Linked DNA regions of Homo sapiens: region 1 is linked to region 2. Evidence: fine-mapped expression QTL. A gene starts in region 2. The other region holds a variant in brackets. All regions are shown on one strand. Distances are between the middles of the regions. Region 1 overlaps AFF1-AS1 (AFF1 antisense RNA 1). Region 2 holds the start of C4orf36 (chromosome 4 open reading frame 36).

The links.
Region 1: its variant is fine-mapped to the expression of C4orf36 in whole blood (TOPMed, PIP above 0.99).

The regions. Positions count from the first base shown.
Region 1 is chr4:86,930,037-86,932,949 of GRCh38, forward strand. All of the region lies in intron 2 of AFF1-AS1 (AFF1 antisense RNA 1), which reads right to left. It also overlaps a transcript of C4orf36 not described here. Among named protein-coding and RNA genes, the nearest start is that of AFF1-AS1, 3.4 kb to the right of the region's middle. The variant T/C (reference allele first, on the strand shown) is at 1,795.
Region 2 is chr4:86,891,036-86,893,948 of GRCh38, forward strand. It overlaps C4orf36 (chromosome 4 open reading frame 36), which reads right to left and starts at 1,387. Exons shown (of 5, transcript NM_144645.4): 1 at 1,148-1,387; 2 at 421-558. The coding sequence starts at 485. RefSeq lists silencers at 799-858, 1,069-1,608 and an enhancer at 1,129-1,784.

The DNA.
Region 1 (2,913 bases), 39 kb after region 2:
TGAAACAAAGTATTGAGTGCTGAGTTCTTGAAGTTGTGACATAGTCTTTAGGGTGCTCTTACCTCCAATCCTGCTCCACCGGGGCACTGTTACTTAGCTTTTCTAGTCTAACCCTCTCTATTATTTCTTTTCCTTCCCACTTCTCAACTATTTGACTTTCCCATAATCATTCAGGTTTCCTTTTCCTCTTCTTATTTAGTCCTCCAGATATAACTGTCAGCATGAAAACCCCATTGCCAGCTCCCTTGAGCCTGCTGATGTGAATTTCACACTGATAGACACTAGTTGAAACACTTATACTAATCTAATTTTGTGTATAGTGTTAAGAACATGGCCTTCAGCCATGGAAGAGCTGAGTTCAAATTCTACTTCTACTATTTAATTGGTTATGTAATCATGATCAAGATGAAATATCTCTCTGAGGTTATAACTTCTTTATTCATGAACTAGACAATATACCCACATTTTCAAGGAGATTAAATAAAGTTATATGTGTACAATGTCTGGGAAATTGTGGAAACTCAGTTAAATCCCTACATTTGTTTTGGGGGATGAAAAAATATTATTGTGCTCACATTGTGTTTTGTTCCAGCTGCACTGGAATTTTGCAAATTACTACTTTAAATGTGAAATCAGTTGAACAATACAACTACATGACTAAAAAGCATTCACAGTCCCCACTGGATTTGGGGAGTAGTGTGTAGCAATGAGGAAAAATTTACATACAATATGAACCTCATATTTGTTAGAAAAAGTGATGTCAGGTCACTAGGAATCACGTTTTCTGCAAAGTATTCATCACAAAATACAGACAGTTATTTTAATTATAATAATTGTGCACCTGGTTCTTCTTACAGCAAGTTCACATTTGCATATCTGCCTCCCAGATAGAGACAGATAACTAAGAATTTCTCTATCTGCCCACAATCTATACCTGGCTTTCTGTACATTTTCTTGCATAACCTTAGGGATTATAATTGTAGCCTGACTGTCTCCAATCCACTTTCATGTGGCAGTCTCAGTAATCTTTCTAAAATGCCACATGATCAAATCAATCTCCTACCCACCGCATTTAGGATGAAAGGAAAGCTTTGTAGGTTGGCATGTAGTGCCCTTCACTATCAGTTTCTGGTTGACTTTTCCTGTCCTATTTCATATCACTGCCCCCCTCATAATCTTTGCCTTGAAGTCCCGCTCCTCCTCTTGATTTCTGTTCTTTTTTGGGAACTGGCCCTTCCTCTACTTCCCTTAACCTGGCTTAGACTAATCCTTCCTCCTTTTTCATCCCTCCTCAGTGCCAGCATCTCCCTCTCCTCATCTACACCGCTTTCCCCGGAGTCTGGGTTGGCTGTTTAATTTAATTTTTTTGTTTTTGTTTTTGAGGTGGGGTCTCATTCTGTCACCCAGGCTGGAGTGCAGTGGCATGATCATACCTCAACGCATCCTCGACCTCCAGGGCTCAAGTTATCCCCCTACCTCAGCCCCTGAAGTAGCTGGGACCTCAGTTGTGCACAACCATGCCTAGCTAATTTTTTTGCTTTCTGTAGATACAGGAACTCACTACGTTGCCTAGGCTGGTCTTGAAGTCCTGGGCTCAAGTGATCCTCCTGCCTCATCCTCCCAACGTGCTGGGATTCTGAACGTGATCACAGTGCCTGGCCTTATTTTATTCTATTTTTAATCATAAGTATATGCTCAGGTTAAGATTTATTTGTTCCGCCAGGTGTGGTGGCTCACGCCTGTAATCCCAGCACTTTGGGAGGCCGAGGCGGGTGGATCACGAGGTCAGGAGAT[T/C]GAGACCATCCTGTCTAACATGGTGAAACTCCGTCTCTACTAAAAATACAAAAAATTGGCCGGGCGTGGTGGCAGGCGCCTGTAGTCCCAGCTACTCAGGAGGCTGAGGCAGGAGAATGGCGTGAACCCGGGAGACGGAGCTTGCAGTGAGCCGAGATTGCACCATTGCACTCCAGCCTGGGCAATAGAGCGAGACTCTGTCTCAAAAAGAAAAAAAAAAAAAAAAAAGATTTATTCCGGGCGTGGTGGCTCACGCCTGTAATCCCAGCACTTTAGGAGGCGAAGATGGGCAGATAACCTGAGGTCCGGAGTTCGAGACCAGCCTGACCAACATGGAGAAACACCCGTCTCTACTAAAAATACAAAATTAGCAGGGCATGGTGGCGCATACCTGTAATCCCAGCTACTCGGGAGGCTGAGGCAGGAGAATCGCTTGAACCCAGGAGGTGGAGGTTGCGGCGAGCTGAGATGGTGCCATTGTACTCCAGCCTGGGGAACAAGAGTGAAACTTCATATCAAAAAAAAAAAAAAAAAAGATTTATTTATATACTTTGCGAGAATAAGTTAATGCCCTTTGAGATATACATGCAGTCATTTGGAGGAACATAATTTAAACTGCTGGCTTAAAATGCTTGGATCTTGCACAACTGCAGAGTTTAGAAGTACTTCAGTTTGACCAAACAGTTGTCCATGTTGTGATGCTGGGCACATTCCTCACCTGCCTCTATCTTAATGTTGTCTTCCCTCCTCATGGGCTGTTTAGGTGCTCTGAGAATACATCCTGTGAGCTTCTATGAGTCCCAGGGGTTTAACTAATTTGTTTTTAAATTTTAAGTAAAATCATGGCTGAAAATTGTCAGGTAACATCCCAGGAGCCCTCATATGAAGAAGCACCTAAAAAGTCCCATCATCATATTTAAAAGGGAGATTTATTTGGGGGGGTGGGGGGGTTCTGTTAAAAAAAAAAAAAAGCACCGATGTCAGAAACATGCTTCATCTTATTAGAAACATAATCTGAAATGTATGAGATTAGGTTGTCAAAATTAAGAAAGTGCTGGAATTTCATTGAGTGTGCTAAAAATGTAATTTAAGAATTCTTGTAAGGAAGATGATGGAGGA
Region 2 (2,913 bases):
TTAGGTGCTCTGTTAAGATACATCTGACACCAGGGCATTTTTTTGGTAGACGTGGAGTATCTAAACAAAGTTTTTTTAAAGTTGTGGGTGGAAGCAGAAAATGCTGTCTTGGAACAAAAAGACTCCGAGTCTAGCCTTTGCATTTCCTTACTACAGGACTGTGACTTTGATCAAACTTCTCTGAACCTCAGTTTTCTCACTTGAAAGTGTTGTGTTGTAAAGACCAAGTAAGATAATTAACTTATAAAAGCAGTTGCCAAAAAAAAAAAAAAAAAAAATCAGATCCCAGACACCTCAAAATACTTCACATAGCCCAGTATCTCATGGGGAGCACAGAGTGTCCAGTCCTTTTATTTAACAAAGACACTCCCCACCGCAGTCAATGCTTACCCTGATTTAAAAAAAAAAAATAGTACTTACACATTATAACAACTGCCCCGCAAAATGGTTTTCACTGTGTTCTTTCTTGGCACTCCATACGCCATGGTGAGTTATTACGGTATGATTTCGTTACATAGGTGCCTGATGGAATGTCACAGATAACTCTGTTCACTTTACCTGAAATGATGGCAACGCACCTAATTAATGCCTCTCACGTGAATATTTTGTAGCCAAATAATAGAAAAAAATTCTGAATGTCAGAAAGTCCTTAATAAGTGTTCATTGAACTGGAACCCCAAGTGTAAAACCGTGTTCTCTTTCATTTTTCCATGAACTCATTTTTTCATTTTTTGCCACCGAATAAGGAGAAAATGCCAGGTAAGTTTCGTCATCCTGAGACAAAGTTTCGGTGTCGCACTCTCTGCCCTTGCCTGAGCCTGCCAAACCAGCTCCAACACCGCTGCGCCAAAATGTGTCTGATCGTGGCAGTGCTGAGCGACCAAAGGCTCTGCCTGCACAGGAACCACCCGCCCCGGCCCGGGCACTTTGAGCAGAGCAATCCTTCCCAGGTTTTCCCTCATTCAAAACACTCAGCACCACTCCCGCGTCCCCGCCCTTGCACGCCGATTCGGGGCGAGTCCCCTACCCTTCCCCGGACGGACGCGCAGGGCCCGGGAGGAACTGGTTCCCGGGACGGGTGGGGGCCTCGGCCGCCCACAGAGCCCGCGGAGAAGGGAACGGCCTCAGCCTCGGCTCCTTCCCACACCTGGGCCCCACCCTGCCTCCGACTCGCCAGGAATGCGCTGTGTGCGCGGGGCTTCCAGGGTGGCGGGTCCCCGCGAGCCGGCGCCGGCGGCCTGGTTACCCGGGCTCCAGGGGCTCGGAGGGTCGCGGCCGGGGTACTGAGGTAAGAGCGCGCTGCGCTAAGCGCACATGGCCGCGCACACGCCTCGGGGCCGCGCCGCAGGCACACGCCTCCTTCCCGCTCGCCGCGGGCGCCGAGTCTGGGGCTCCTCGCGTCACACGGGAGCCTCAACAAAGGGCTTTGTGGGGCCCTCCCCACCCGCCAGGGAGGGGACGCCGGGCCCGGGAGACGCGCCCCGCGGGGTCCGCTCTCTGGTAACCGGGCCGGGGCAGGCCGCGCTCTCGGAATCCAGCCAACCAGCCAGAGAGGGCTGTAAGCCAGACCTTTCCTGGGAAGGACGCTTTCCAATGTAGGGGGCTGCATCCAAGCGATCTGGACTTCGTTTGCGGGCGCCATTTAAAGAAATGTACCCAGTCCTGGCTGCTGACATCTGGGGAACCGAAGCCCTGTTGCCAGCGTTCTCACACTGCAGTGGGTGAAGGCAGTGAGCTCAAAGCCCACGTGTGATATTTTAGGTGTTCGTGTTCAGAGCAAGACAGCATCAATTTCTAAAGCCGTTATTACGCTGTGGTGATTTCGTATTTCTTCATTTGAATACATCAGATGGCCACCCCTTACGGTCAAATGAAACGAGCTTACATTTCCATTTTGAGTGAGGGTTTTGATGTCAGAACTGGTTTGGAATTCTAGCTCTGCCACTTAAGATTTAACCTTAAGATTTCGCATGTCACTGCTCTAAGCATCAATTTCTTCATCTATAAAACAAGGATAATGCTCTATGTCTTAGAGGGTTGTTCTGAGGATGAAAGATCCTGCCCTGAGATTCTCCGCCACGTGATAAATGCCTAATTGATTGTGAGCCTAAAAACAACTTTATGAAATAGGTAAGAGCGATACTACTCATTTCAATTGTGGAGCCGACGAATGAGTTCAGGGTGGTTAAAGGGCTGCCCAGAGTCACATGGCAAGTTCCAAAGCCAACTTTTAAAGATAAACACAGATGGGCCAGGCACGGTGGATGGGCCGGGCGCGTGTCTCACGCCTGTAATCCCAGCAATTTGGGAGGCCGAGAGGGGCAGATCACGAGGTCAAGGGGTTCGAGACCAGCCTGGCCAACCGACATGGTGAAACCCTGTCTCTACTAAAATGCAAAAATTAGCTGGGCGAGGTGGCGCGCGCCTGTCGTCCCAGCTATTCAGGAGGCTCAGACAGGAGAATTGCTTGAACCCGGGAGGCAGAGGTTGCAGTGAGCCGAGATGGCGCCACTGCATTCCAGCCTGGGCAACAGAGACTCCATCTCAAAAAAAAAAAAAAGATAAAACACAGTAACCTTTCCATCTGACAAGCAACTTCTGATCCTTCTGATTAGAGTAGGCTCGCAGGGCTGACCCATCTTTCAAAGGTGCTTTTGTGCCTCCCAGAAACTGGAAGGTGAGGACTGTCACTCGCTCTTCAGCATTTCTGCTCTACCACCAATGAAAAGTGAGCACCGAGGAGTGACAGTGGGTGTTTTCTTTCCACAAAGAATGTTGAAACCCTCAATGGACTGTGAGACCAGTGTACTACAGATTTTGGCCTGAATTTTTATTTATTTATTTATTTATTTATTTATTTATTTATTTATTTATTTATTGAGATGGAGTCTCGCTCTGTCGCCCAGGCTGGAG